Regions from separate parts of the Homo sapiens genome. Here regions 1 and 3 are each linked to region 2. Evidence: fine-mapped expression QTL. A gene starts in region 2. Each other region holds a variant in brackets. All regions are shown on one strand. Distances are between the middles of the regions.

What was found. PIP is the estimated chance that this variant, and not a neighbour inherited with it, causes the effect. A credible set is the group of variants that fine-mapping cannot tell apart.
Region 1: its variant is the best candidate, but not a certain one, in a credible set for the expression of NPR2 in lymphoblastoid cells (GTEx, PIP 0.77).
Region 3: its variant is the best candidate, but not a certain one, in a credible set for the expression of NPR2 in spleen (GTEx, PIP 0.58).

What each region holds. Positions count from the first base shown.
Region 1 is chr9:36,525,605-36,528,361 of GRCh38, reverse strand. No RefSeq gene overlaps it. Among named protein-coding and RNA genes, the nearest start is that of MELK, 46 kb to the left of the region's middle. The variant C/T (reference allele first, on the strand shown) is at 1,427.
Region 2 is chr9:35,790,034-35,792,746 of GRCh38, reverse strand. NPR2 (natriuretic peptide receptor 2) reads right to left here and starts at 1,156. Exons shown (of 22, transcript NM_003995.4): 1 at 1-1,156. The coding sequence starts at 338. It also overlaps a transcript of RGP1 not described here.
Region 3 is chr9:35,691,680-35,694,392 of GRCh38, reverse strand. No RefSeq gene overlaps it. Among named protein-coding and RNA genes, the nearest start is that of TPM2, 3.1 kb to the right of the region's middle. The variant G/A (reference allele first, on the strand shown) is at 1,286.

The sequences.
Region 1 (2,757 bases), 740 kb before region 2:
AAAAAAAAAAAGGATGTCTCTTCCCCGGAAAAATTGGAGTACACGTAGCGTAAGAGGTCTAAGGAGACTTTGGATGGCAAACATGAGAAATGACCACAATTCTAGTGTCCTTCCCTTTAATTCTGCCAAAGTATTTTCTTTCTATGGAAAGCTCAGAATAAATCCTGCTGATCTCTTACTGGTAATTGCCAAGCTCTGTAGAAATTTAAGACATTTTCTTATCGGATCTCATTTTTTGTTTGACCCTGTTGATTACTCCCTCCCTTCTGCAGCTCCTCACTTATTCATTAAAACTCCATTTCCTGGCCTGGATGGGTGGCTCACGCCTATAATCCTAGCAATTTGGGAGGACGAGGTGGGTAGATTGCTTGAGCTCAGAAGTTCAAGACCAGCCTGGGCAACATGACAAAACCCTGTCTCAACCAAAAATACAAACATTAGCCAGGTGTGGTGGCTTGCACCTGTAGTCCCAGCTACTTGGGGGGTTGAGGTAGGAGGATCCCTGAGCCCAGGAGCCGGAGGTTGCAGTGAGCTGAGATCATGCCACTGCACTCCAGCCTGGGTACGAGTGAGACCCTGTCTCAAAAACAAAAACAGGCCGGGCTCGGTGGCTCACGCCTGTAATCCCAGCACTTTGGGAGGCCGAGGCGGGCAGATCACCTGAGGTTGGGAGTTCGAGACCAGCCTGGCCAACATGGAGAAACCCTGTCTCTGCTAAAAATACAAAATTAGCTGGGCATGGTGGCACATGCCTGTAATCCCAGCTACTCGGGAGGCTGAGGCAGGAGAATCACTTGAACCCGGGAGGCGGAGGTTGCGGTGAGCTGAGATTGCGCCATTGCACTCCAGCCTGGACAACAAGAGTGAAACTCTGTTTCAAAAAAAACAAAAACAAAAACAAAAAAACCTCCATTTCCCATGGCCTGGCATGGTGGCTCACACCTGTAATCCCAGCACCATCACTTTGGGAGGCTGAGGTAGGAGGATCGCTTGAGGCCAAGAGTTCAAGACCAGTGTGGGCAACATAGCAAGACACTGTCTGAAACAAAAACACCAAAAAACTCTGTTCCCCTTGGTTCTGTGAAACTGAGCTCCCTTGGTTGTACTTGCACCTCTCTGATCATGTTATTTGTGCATTTGAGAGGCCCTTTTTCCTTTCCCTGTCCCACACCTATGAAATGGACTGTGGCCAAATTCTCATTCAGTCTGCTCTCTTCTTTTTGTCATTTTTCTTGAACTGACTGCTCAGTTCAGGTATTTTCATTCTTAGTTCTACAATAAAGAAATTTAAGGTTGTTAATCTTCTTGTAAGTGGAGATTTGGCCCGTTCCCATAAGCTCTGTTACGTAGTGCTCTCCTTTTAGTAAATATCTAAATAGATTTTGCTTTCCTTGAATTTATTTTGTGATATGAATAATGCATAGTC[C/T]GCTTTCTTTTTGTTTGCACTTGCCTGTTGTCTTTTCCTAAAGGTTACGTTTAATGTTTCTGCTCATTCATATGTTGCATACACTTGACTTAAATACATACACTTGACTTCCATCTACTACGCATACTAACCCTCTTGACTTGCCATTAGTTTAAATGCCAGTGGCTGCACACCCAGGGATTTCTGAATTTGTGGCCCACTACTAAAAGCACTTTGAATGTCCTTGATATTCTTCATGTAAGAGATACTCCTGGCCAGGCACGGTGGCTCACGCCTGTAATCCTAGCACTTTGGGAGGCCAAGGAGGGTGGATCACCTGCGGTCAGGAGTTCAAGACCAGCCTGGCCAACATAGTGAAACCCCGTCTCTACTAAAAAAAATATAAAAAATTAGCTGGGCATGGTGGCGGTTGCCTGTAATCCCAGCTACTAGGGAGGCTGAGGCAGGAGAATCGCTTGAACCTAAGAGGCGGAGGTTGCAGTGAGCCGAGATCATGCCATTGCACTCCAGCCTGGGCAACAAGAGTGAAACTCCGTCTCAAAAAAAAAGAGATACTCCCTTAACAGGGGATGTATCTCCTGTAAGGGGATGAACTGTGCCAACTGAATCAGGTAGGGTTCTTTGGTTGCAAGCAACAGAAAGCGGTCATGTTTAACTTAAGAAAAAATGATATGAGCTAACTCACAGAAGAAAGGGAATGGCTGAAGAACCAAATCCCCTATCACTTACAGGGGAACATGCAAATTTATTAAACATAGTGTAAAATGTCTTTCATTCCTTTCCCTTAGCCAGACACTGTTCCAAGCGCTAGGAAACCAGTGGAGAACATGATAAAAACAACCTCTGTTTTGAAGACAAATATAGCTAGCACTGATCTGGATCCATGCCTATGGCCCAACAGGCTCTTTTCCTACCACATTTCAATACATACCCTGAATACAACAGCCAGGCACTTCCCTGGTGCACCAGACTCTTTAATGTTTCCATAACTTTGATCACGAAATTTTCTCTGTACTCATTATCCTTTCCTGCAAAGTCCTCTCTCACATCTTTGCTTGGTGACCTTATTCTACTCAGTCTTCAAAAATCAAACAAAAGGTCACCACTATTAGGAGATCAACAACCTCCGCCCCCCTTTTCCTTTTCAATTCAAAACTATTTTAGTTGTAGTCAAAGATGCTGGCTGATTAAGATTAAAATGTCATTTTCATTATTAATAAAGTCTAGGTTGGAGAACATGGCTTATGTTTGAGGCCAAATGACGTTATTAATATTTGGTTTTATGCTGGGCACGGTGGCTCATGCCTGTAGTTCTAGCACTTTGGGAGGCT
Region 2 (2,713 bases):
GAGGCAAAGCGGGCCACAGAGGCAGCAGGGTACACGCAACCGGGACCTAACAGCAGGTCGGGGTCATGGTACAGCTTGAGGTCCACAGCGCTCAGCGGTGCCAGGTACTCAGAGCAGGCGCCTTCCAGTTCGGAGCTGACAAACCGCAGGTCCACGGGCAGTGCCCGGCCCAGAGCCTCCACAGCTAGTGCCACAGCGGGTCCCACCCGTGGCCAGGCCCAGGCATAGCTCAGGTTGTGTTCTGGCAGCACCACCGCCAGCGTCAGGTTCCGCGCCCCGGGAGGACGCACCCCACCTGCCAGGGCTGCCACCAACAGCAGAAGTGATGGCAGCGCCATGGGGATAAAGCAGCAGCCCCACCGCCCCCAGAACTTGGGGCTGCTCTGGCCTACAGGGGAGACGCGAGCACCCCCCAGCCTGGAGCCTGGGGAAGAGGGCCAGGAAGAGGAGGAGTAGGCTAGGTAGGCTGGGATGCAGAAGGTGCTGGGGGCCGGGGAGAGGAGGGGGAGATGGGAGGAAGGCGGGGGGCGGGCAAGGAGTGGGCTACCAGCCTAGGGCAAGGACTGAGGACTGAGAACGGGGTGGCAGGGGGAGGGAGGGACCGAGGGGGCCTGCGGCCAGGATGGGGACAGTGCGAGGTGAAGAAGCCTGATAAATCTAAAGCTGAGAAGGAAAAGGGGATCTGGGACTGGGATGGGGTGGGGGTGGGGGGCGGGTGGTACAAAGAAACGGCCTGGGGGAACCTCACAGCTGAAAGGGCCGGGAGGGCAGGAGGGCGCTGCGCCACATAGGACCAAGGGGGTAAGGTGGGAGGGTGCCCGCGCCGCGGAAGGACTGGGATCATGGGCAGGCGGGGAGCGAAGCGAGGCCTGGGCCGGAGGGCAGGGGAAGGCAGGGGTAAATCTCCCTGTGAAGGATTCTCCCGGAGCTCCTGCTTGGACTAACGGGCCCGGGCGCTGGTCCCATCCGGAGCTACGGCGGCCCCGCCCGTGTCCCCGCTCCTCTCTGCTCCGCTTCTCCTGGGCCCTGGCGGCCGGCGCTGCCCGGCGCTTCCTCCCGCCCCCCGCCTGGGCCCCGCGCGCGCCGCTCGTCCGGGTCAGGTCGCCTCGGCCCGGCCCGTCTCCGCTCGCTGCGCCGGCGGCCGAGTGCGACTCCCCCGGGCAGGCCGCCCGCCCCCGCCCCTCCCCCGCTGCCTCTCCTCCTCCCTCCCGGCCCCACCCTCCGGCGCCGGCTGCCTTCCCCCACCCCCCACCCGGGCGCTCGGGACCGCCAGGTCCCAAACCCACCCCGGTGAGCACTTGGGGGCTCCGCACCAAGGCCTCGCCGGCCAGCAGGGTTCCCGGGCGCTCCCTCACTCTCAGGGCCTACCCTGGTCTCCCCCACGCCCCTGGTCCCCCTGCCGCCCCTCCTTCCATTTCCATCTCACACACGCCAGCGACCCCAGGGTTTGTCCTCTCCCCCTCGCTCAGCCCGTTCTTCTTGGGTCTCCCCTCTGAACTCCCTGAGTCCCTCAGTGGTTCCAGTCTCCAGGAAGCAGTCGAGGATCCCCAGACGTGTGGTATCCTCACCAGCCCCCTCACCTAGCAAACCATAGCGCCCTCCCGACGGCAGTGCGGCTTACTCCACCGCGGACCATGCCCGCTCCCTGGACGGGCCCCTCCAGCAGCCAGGGGCCCCTGCTGTACACTTCCCACCAGTCCTTAGAAAGTCCACGAGGCTCCTTCTTGCTTGGGACTCAACTCTCGGCCCCCCGCTGTCTCCATGCCCCCTGCCCTCCTCGTGTCCTCAGAGGCCCACCGCAGCCCGCCCGGCTTCCTCCGCACCATCTGCTCAGTCAGGGCCTCGATTTTCTTTTGTCTCCTGCACAGCGCAGGCTGGCGCCTGGGGAAAGCCTGTAACGGACCGGCGGGACACTCCCCGCAGTGGAAGCCCATCCACGCTCTCCTGGGGTTCCACCTTGCTCCCAGCTTCCCTTAGGAAGCTCTCCCTAGGGCCCTCATATCTGGAGTGCCAATCTGACCCCAAGAACAGCTTGTGAGGGATGATCTCATGGTGGCTGAGAGGGACTGCTATGGGACCTTGGGGATTTTTCTCCAACTGTCATAAAGGACATGCACATAAGCCCATTCTCTGCCCGCGCTAAGAGCCACGGTTTCTCTCCCCCCTTCAAGCTATTTCTCCAGAAATCACAAGCTAAGAGCGCTCCTGGAGCCCTGGAGTGGGGTGGGAGTGTATAGGGCGAGGACGGGCATGGTTTCCCTGAGATGAAGGCGACACCTAGTGGTTTGGTGGGGGAAATTAAGGACAATGCCACTTTATCCTTAGGCACGATATTTATTGAACACCGGCTGCCTAGCACAAGCTGTACCTGTGAATACAAAGAAAGCCGAATGATACAGCCCTTACCTTTGAGGAACATGCATTTGCAATCCCTGGGGCACAGAGGCCAAGAGCAGGCCGTCCCTAACAATGTTCTTGCCTCAAGCCCAGTAGAGATGGAAGCCTCAGGACAGCTCCTTCTTTAACGCAGAGGGGTTGGTAACTCTAGTTCCAGGCTCCCAATACTGCAGTGAAAAGGAATTTTGTCCTATCTGGCCAAGGCAAAAAAAAAAAAAAGGAACAGTCAAAAGAATGACGAGACAACATGAGAAATACTTTAGACCAAGTCAACCAAATAGAATAGTTGATTTTTAAGCAACTACACATTGTTTTA
Region 3 (2,713 bases), 98 kb after region 2:
CGAATGCACGGTGTTACAAAATTATGCATGGGTAAAAGATCCAATCAGGTGCAGTTCAGAAAAACGGATTTTTTTTTTTTTTTTGAGACAGAGTCTTGCTCTGTCACCCAAGCTGGAGTGCAGTGGTGCAATCTCGGCTAACTGCAACCTTCGCCTCGCAGGTTCAAGTGATTCCCCTGCCTCAGCCTCCCGAGTGGCTGGGATTACAGGCGTGTGCCACCACCACACCTGACTAATTTTTGTAGTTTTAGTAGAGACGGGAGGGTTTCACCATGTTGGCCAGGCTGGTCTCGAACTCCTGACCTCAGGTGATCCACCCACCTTGGCGTCACAAAGTGCTGGGATTACAGGCGTGAGCCACCACACTTGGCCAAAACAACGGATTTTAGTTTAACAGTACAAAAAGGTCACTGATATGGTTTCACATTCTACATTGCAACTGCCCCTTAAGAAACTGCCAATTATCGGCCAGGCACAGTGGCTCAGGCCTGTAATTCCAGCACTTTGGGAGGCTGAGGCAGGAGGGTAGCTTGAGCCTAGGAGTTTGAGACCAACCTAGGCAACATAGTGGCACACCATCTCTATTTAAAAAAAAAAAAAAAAGGGCCGGGTATGATGGTGCACATGTGTAGTCCCAGCTACTGGAGGAGACTGAGGCGGAGAGAGCACTTGAGCCCAGAAGGTCAAGGCTGCAGTGAGCCAAGCCGTGATTGTGTCTCTGCACTACAGCCTGGGTGACAGAGCCAGACCTTGTCTCAAAAAAACATAAATATGCCAGGCCCGGCATGGTGGCTCACGCCTGTAATCCCAGCACTTTGGGAGGCCAAGGCAGGCAGATTATCTGAGTTCAGGAGTTCAAGACCAGCCTAGCTAACACAGTGAAACCCCGTCTCTACTAAAAATATAAAAAGTTATCTGGGCATGGTGGCGGGCGCCTATAGTTCCAGCTACTTGGGAGGCTGAGGCAGGAGAATGGCGTGAACCTGGGAGGCGGAGGTTGCAGTGAGCCGAGATTGTGCCACTGCACTCCAGCCTGGGCAACAGAGCGAGACTCCGTCTCAAAAAAACAAAACAAACAAACAAAAAATACAACAGTTAGCTGGGTGTGATGGCTTATGCCTGTAGTCCCAGCTACTCGGGAGGCTGAGGCGGGAGAATCACTTGAACCTGGGAGGCGGAGGTTGCAGTTAGCTGAGATCGCCCCACTGCACTCCAGCCTGGGTGACAGCGCGAGACTCTGTCTCAAAAAAATAAACAAATAATAATAATAATAAATAGGCCAGGC[G/A]TGGTGGTTCACGCCTGTAAGCCCAGCACTTTGGGAGGCCAAGGCAGGCGGATCACTTGAGGTCAGGAGTTCGAGACCAGCCTGGCCAACATGGTGAAACCCTGTCTCTACTGAAAATACAAAAATTAGTCAGGCATGGTGGTGCATGCCTGTAGTCCCAGCTACTCAGGAGGCTGAGACAGGAGAATTGCTTGAACCTGGGAAGCGGAGGTTGCAGTGAGCCAAGATCGCACCACCGCACTCCAGCCTGGGCAACAGAGCAAGACTGTTTCAAAATAAATAAATAAAATAATAAATAAATCTTTCCAACTGCATATCTGTTGTGAGACAGGATTTTCTTCATATGTCTCAGTAACCAACATATAGCAACAGATCAAATATGGAAGGAGATATTGATAATACAGCTGTCCCCTTGGAAGCCAGAGAGTAAAGAGATTCGTAAAAATGTAAAATAATTTCCATACTCTCATTAATTCGGGGAATGGGAATATAGTTATCTTTCATTTAGAACATTATGTTAACATGATTAATGTGTAATGAGTTTATTTTTGTTATTTTTAACGAATTGATACATATTTAAAATTTTTCTCAAGTTTCATTTTAATATGGCAACTATTGGTAGATATAACCCACTTCAACAAAAAAGCTGTTTGGGGGTCTTCAATACTTTTTAAGAGTGTAATGGGTTCTAAGACCAAAAGACCCACACCGTATTAGTATATTTGATAAGTACCCAGAAACTGGTACATAAAAAACTCATCTGGCAAATGTTCATGAAGTGCCAACTCTATGCCTGGTGCTGTGATAGGCCTTGGGGATTCAGAATTGAGAACAGTCGTTTCTGTTGAGGACTCACAGACCGGCGGAGGCGCCAAACCGGTATAAGAACAGTTATACCATGGGACTAGGATGAGGGTGAGAGCCCGCACCAAGAACACGCACCTATTAGGTGAGGCGGTGGGAAGAGAAGTGGCCAGGGAAGGCTTCCCAGAAAAGCTGACACTTACTGAGTCTTAAAGGCCACCAGGAATCAGCCAAGGGGATGGGCATTTTAGGGAGAGAGAACAGAATGCATAAACTGTGGAAGCTTTAAGAAAAGTATGGCTATTTCCAGCTCCTGCACGTAGCTCATTATGAATGCAGCATGAGGTACAAGTATGAATACTGGGGGTGAGGTTGGGCATGGAAGGAGATGAGGCCAGAGAGGCAGGCAACAGCCAAAACAACGGGCCTTCTATACCATATTAAGAAATGTGGATTTTTTTTTTCTCCTCAAAACAGGCAGGGTGCCCGCACGCCTGTAATCCCAGCTACTCAGGAGGCTGAGTCGGGAGGATCACTTAAGCCCATAAGTTCAAGACCAGCCTGGGCAATCTAGCAAGCTCCCGTCTCAAAAAAGGTGGGGGGACAGGGATTAGGGAGGGGTTT